Regions from separate parts of the Homo sapiens genome. Here region 2 is linked to region 1. Evidence: fine-mapped expression QTL. A gene starts in region 1. The other region holds a variant in brackets. All regions are shown on one strand. Distances are from middle to middle.

The links. PIP is the estimated chance that this variant, and not a neighbour inherited with it, causes the effect.
Region 2: its variant is fine-mapped to the expression of KCNE5 in testis (GTEx, PIP above 0.99).

Annotation. Positions count from the first base shown.
Region 1 is chrX:109,623,563-109,626,473 of GRCh38, reverse strand. KCNE5 (potassium voltage-gated channel subfamily E regulatory subunit 5) reads left to right here and starts at 1,302. Exons shown (of 1, transcript NM_012282.4): 1 at 1,302-2,774. The coding sequence starts at 1,454. The coding sequence ends at 1,882.
Region 2 is chrX:109,425,291-109,428,201 of GRCh38, reverse strand. All of the region lies in intron 8 of GUCY2F (guanylate cyclase 2F, retinal), which reads left to right. Among named protein-coding and RNA genes, the nearest start is that of GUCY2F, 55 kb to the left of the region's middle. The variant G/A (reference allele first, on the strand shown) is at 1,728.

The DNA of each region.
Region 1 (2,911 bases):
GAAAACCTTCCTTTTTTAACCCATGGCACCTATAGATTGAATGGTCCCTGGACTGAACGGTCTTGAACAGGCAGCATTATTTTCAAGGTGTGCCTAAGGTCATACACTTTTCTTGCTTTCTGCTCTCATTTGGCAACTATGGACAACCAGACCTAGCCAGCACTACCTCATTTTTTCTACCCCACCATCTACAAACCAACCCTTTTCCTTTGTGAAGCTCAGTCTGTTTCCAATTTAACATATCTGGCCTGATCTTTGTCTTGGTGCCTTGTTTTCCCCTAAAAAAAGACAGCCTTTGAGAAAAAAATGGCTGCCCTAAAAGCCATTAGGGCCTAGACCTGTTACCAAGTCTAGAGAGGCACACAGCTGTTTGCTGGCCTAACTGGGAGTAGGGTGAGCATATTCTCTAGAACTGGCACTTTTCAGATCCCGAGATATCCACAGAGTGTAGTCAAAGGGCCTTTTAAAATGTGCATGCTACTCTTATTGGAAGAACTTGGTTTCACTTCTGGGAAGATGGCTTACTTACCCATGGGAAACAGGCTCCCATTATGAATAGTACATTCATGTGCTAAGATGTGTTGACTTTTCAAAAAGTGTCATAGGACATCAGAGCAGGGGTGCTTCCAAGAAGGTGTAATATCACTTATATCACCAGAAACCATTTTGGATAACCAGGGAGTTCTACTCTGCCTTGGCCTTCTAGCAGGTGCCTGAGCACTCAGTCACCAAATTCAGCCTGAGCATCTTCTGAATAAGATGCTCTCCTCCGACAAGGTGGGAGGGGGGTGAAAAGGGGGGCGGGGGGAAAAGGAAAGGAATGAGGACTAGAAAGATAGGCCTGGGTCCCTGTATATGGGAGTAACTTCCATAAAATGTGGACAAGGGGTCTCTGCTGCGGAAAGGCGTCTGCCCTCTCCCTTGAGCGCCCCAAGGCAGAGCTGCCTTAGGGGGCCAAATGCTGTATCTGGGCCAAAGCCTGGCCTGCAGGGCAGGTGGCCAGAACTTGGAAGGAATTCTCTTCCGCAGCCCAGGGTCCAGGCTTGGCCCCAGCAAGCTGCCCTGCCAGCGTCTGCTGCCTGGGGCCTCGCGCATTCCGAGCCCCCGCCCCCTCCGCCCGTCTCCCAGCCTCGCCCCCACTCTTGTCCCCTTCTCCTCCCCCCACCAGCTGTCCCCTTTCCCTGGAGCAGCGAGACAGCCAGAGCCTGGGAAGAGGCGGCCGCGGGCCGGAGGGGGCGTGGTGGGGAAGGGGAGGAGGGGCGGGAGTGAGGGAATAAGGAGGCCCCGCCGTCGGCGCCCCCAGCCACTGCGCGCTCGCCGGAGAGCTGGGTGCTACCGCTGTTTCCGCTGCTGAGCCCTGCCCGCCGGCCGGCCCGCTCGCTAGCTCGCTTCCCCTCGCCCAGGGGGAAAGGTCAGCAGCGTCCTGGAGCCGCCGTGTCACTCCCCGAAAGCCATGAACTGCAGCGAGAGCCAGCGGCTGCGAACCCTTCTGAGCCGCCTGTTGCTCGAGCTGCACCACCGGGGTAATGCCAGCGGCTTGGGCGCTGGCCCTCGTCCCAGCATGGGCATGGGGGTCGTGCCTGACCCTTTCGTGGGCCGCGAGGTGACCAGCGCCAAGGGCGACGACGCCTATCTCTACATCCTGCTCATCATGATCTTCTACGCCTGCTTGGCCGGAGGCCTCATCCTGGCCTACACCCGCTCCCGTAAGCTCGTCGAGGCCAAGGACGAGCCGTCCCAGGCTTGCGCCGAGCACGAATGGGCCCCGGGAGGCGCCCTGACCGCCGACGCCGAGGCTGCCGCGGGCTCCCAGGCCGAGGGCCGCCGCCAGCTTGCCTCCGAGGGGCTGCCTGCCCTCGCCCAGGGCGCTGAGCGGGTCTAAAACCACAGCCCCAGATTGCTGGTTCGCGCCCTCCTCATCTCGCTCATCCCTGGGCGCGCCTCCCACCTTCCACCCCCAACTCCCTTCCAGGGTTCGCCTCATCTGAGGCCCAGATAATGGTGAGAGGCCAGGAGACCTTGTCTGGAAGGCCCTGGAAGGAGAAGCACCACCTTACCCATTCGGGCCAGTTTCTCCCTCTTCACCCCTGCGCCTCCACCCCTACCCCGCACATCCAACTGCACTAAACTGCCTCTGCTCTCTTGTCTTCAGACAGCCCTGACAGCACGCTCCAGCCCTCTGGGAACTGAATCCAACACGTCCAACACTTGGCACTGAACTGAAGCAATGCATTCTATCAGAACTCTGGGCCGTCTAACTGGCAGCTGCTCCAGGGGCTGCCAGGGACTGCTCACTCTGCAGAGCCAACGGGCTTGCCAGGCCGACTGCAGCAGCTCCAGCTTCCAGTTGCCTTAGGGACAGAGACAAAGGAAATGAAGAGACCTCAGACATCTTTTCCCTCCCTCTCTCTTTCAGCAGGGAGCTAGCAGGACACTAGGACCAGTCTGTGGGATAGAATGAACTTAATGGGGGACGGAAGGGGGAGGAGTGCTCAACGGGGAGGGAAATGATCTATGACTCCAACCGTATGATTTTCTTGCCTCCCCAGTTTTCATCCCAGTGGTAACGCCTGATTTTTGGTAGCTATGCCATCTTCTGCTGAGGATTACCATTACTGGGTGTATCACCCCAGTACTTCCAAATGCCTCTCCTCTATTGATTCAGTTGTTATTGCAGTGTCTGCTTCATCCGTGGAACTTGAGGCTCAGATGCCCCCTGCTCTGTAACCCTGGGGAATGTCAGAGGCAGGTAATAAAGGTTGTTTAAACAATAACGCAAGACTCTTCTCTCAGAGATTCCAGCCTTAAGACCCAGTACCATATGGAGAAGGAATCCTTTTTCTTTTGCTTTTGGAAATGATGTTTGGATTTGGGGGTTGGGTGGTTGTGATATTTATATCTATGTAACCAG
Region 2 (2,911 bases), 200 kb after region 1:
TTGGGGGAGATACTTTAATCTATGTAAATATCCTGTTCTTCATCAAAGTTTTACCCAATAATTTTGACATCCATTGATAAATGTCGTATTCCATCATTGTTTCTGCATTTACTGGTTGACATTTTATTATAAGAAAGAATCTTCTCTTCTTCCTCATTTATTTATTCATTCAATTATTTATATCAGTGTGCACATATGGATTTTTATTTTATTCAATTAGTATCTATAATATTCATATCAATCAATCTGTCTATCTAAAACCATAAATTCATACTAAACTCTCTAATTCTAATCCAGTGCCACAGTGTTAATTCCGTTTCTTTTTTAACTTTTCCATATTTGTAATTTCCTTCTCTGACAGTGAAAAAACTGCCTTCCCATTATCCTCATGACATCTGTTTATGTGTTTCCTTCACTGACTTGGGTGGCCATGTCAGGTATAGAGTGTAACTCAAACTTAGAAAGCCAGGATTTTCTAGAATTTACCATGTAGATGTGCTTTAATGCTTTTTAGTTGAATGCTTTTTTGAAGCTGGAGGTGGATCTGATCATAGTGTCACTGTGAGTCCAGCACTGCCTTGACTACTTATGTGTATTCATGACCTCAAAACGTTAGGGCTGGGTACCAGGATCCAGATGGAAAGCAGATCTTTGTGAGCCAGATATAGAAAGGAGCAGTGCACAATGGGATGGATGTCCTTGAAAAACAAACAGCTGGAGTCAGAAGGCCACAGAGCTGATAATTTCCAACATCTTTTAAGATCACAACTTCTGCAAAATTGCGTGCAGGAAAATTAGGCTGTATCTCTTAGTCTCATGTTCTTCCCCATAATGTGGAACTGATTGGCATATTCCCTGTACTCCTATAAAGGCAAATGGAAAGTATCCTGGAGTTCTTTAAAGGAAATTCTCAGTTGTTAGAGAGTGTCTCTTTCTTTAAGAAATGTGAAGAGAAGGAAACTGCAGTTGCTGTGAAACAAAGTGTTTACTTTGTGAAAAAATATTTGGGGCCATTCTAGAGCCTCTATTGAGAATATTATCTTCCCTGTAGCCATTTCTTCTCCAGTGGGGCTGTTATTATGCCTCAGTACCTCAAGATCATGACCATGTGGTGAAATTGTATCCCCTGCTTACTGATGACGCTTCCCAAACAATGATTCTTTTGCCTTTGTTAAACACATTCACAAGCTTTTGAGGCTAATGCCATTCTCTGTTTTAGCATCTTCTACACCTCCTGTTACTTCCATCTACTCTCCATATTCGCTACCCTTAATTTATTGAATATTTTGGGATATGTATCATGGTCCTCCTCTCTACTCCAAGACCTGCTGTTATGCTGGTGACATCAATTGGACATGGACTGTGGACAACTATATATCTTGACTATTTCATTCTTTGCCATATCATCCTAATAATCTTCTCTTCCATTCTACTTTGGCCAAACACTGCTACCATTATATTAATACCTTCTGCTTTTCCATCTTCTATAACTGCTACTGAAAATGCTTCACCTGGCCGGGTGTGGTGGCTCACGCCTGTAATCCCAGCACTTTGGGAGGCCGAGGCGGGCGGATCACAAGGTCAGGAGATCGACACCATCCTGGCTAACACGGTGAAACCCCGTCTCTACTAAAAATACAAAAAAATTAGCCAGGCGTGGTGGCCGGTGCCTGTAGTCCCAGTTACTCAGGAGGCTGAGACAGGAGAATGGCGTGAACCCGGGAGGC[G/A]GAGCTTGCAGTGAGCCGAGATCACGCCACTGCACTCCAGCCTGGGCGACAGACCAAGACTCCGTCTCAAAAAATAGAAAAAAGAAAATGCTTCACCTCCCAAATTATGAATTCATCACACTCTCTGATTACAACCTCCTTTTATCCCAACTGTGCCTATATTTGACTATATCAGGTCTTCCAGTCTACTGACCTCTGCTTTCTCCAAACTCACAAGCCCTTGTTTTATTTACTTTATTGTCCAATTCAGAGTCTATAGTCTATCATTTGAACATGTTCTTATTAATATTTCTGTCTTTTTGGTCAGACACACTTGCAAAACTCTAGTTCTGTATGATCCCAACTCTTAACTTTCTTTGTGCTTGCACTTGAACAGCCAAATATTGTAGCAGAAAGTTATGCAGCAAAGTATATTGTTTCCACTATAAATTCATGGTTTCTTATATTTAAATGTCCCTTACTACTACCTCATAATTCCATTATACTTCATTGGTTAATTCACTTCCTACCACCCATACATCAAAGCTTCTCCATTTTCCTTGAAGCTCCAATGTCCTTCTCTTTCTCGATTTTTACTATTAGTATCCTGGTCCAAGCACCATCATCTCCCACTAGAGCTACTAAGATTGTCTTTTTTTCTTTTCATAGACTTAATTTCTTAAAAAAATTTATTTCCATAGTTTTTTGGGGGGAACAGGTAGTATTTGGTTACATGAATAAGTTCTTTAGTGGCAATTTGTGAGATTTTTGTGCACCCATCACCTAAGCAGTATACACTGAACCCAATTTGTAGTCGTTTATCTCTCGCCCCCCTCCCACCCTTTCCCCCGAGTCCCCAAAGTCCTTTGTATCATTCTTATGCCTTTGCATCCTCATAACTTAGCTCCCACTTATGAGTGAGAACATACGATGTTGAGTTTCCCATTCCTAAGCTACTTCACTTAGAATAATAGTCTCTAGTTCCATCCAGGTTGCTGTAAATGCCATTAATTCATTCCTTTTCATGGCTGAGTGGTATTCCATCATATATATAAATATATGTATATATGATGTGATATATATGTACACACATATAATATATATATATACATATATATCATATCTATACACACACACACACACACACACACACACACACAACAATTTCTTTATCCACTCGTTGATTGATGGGCATTTGGGCTGGT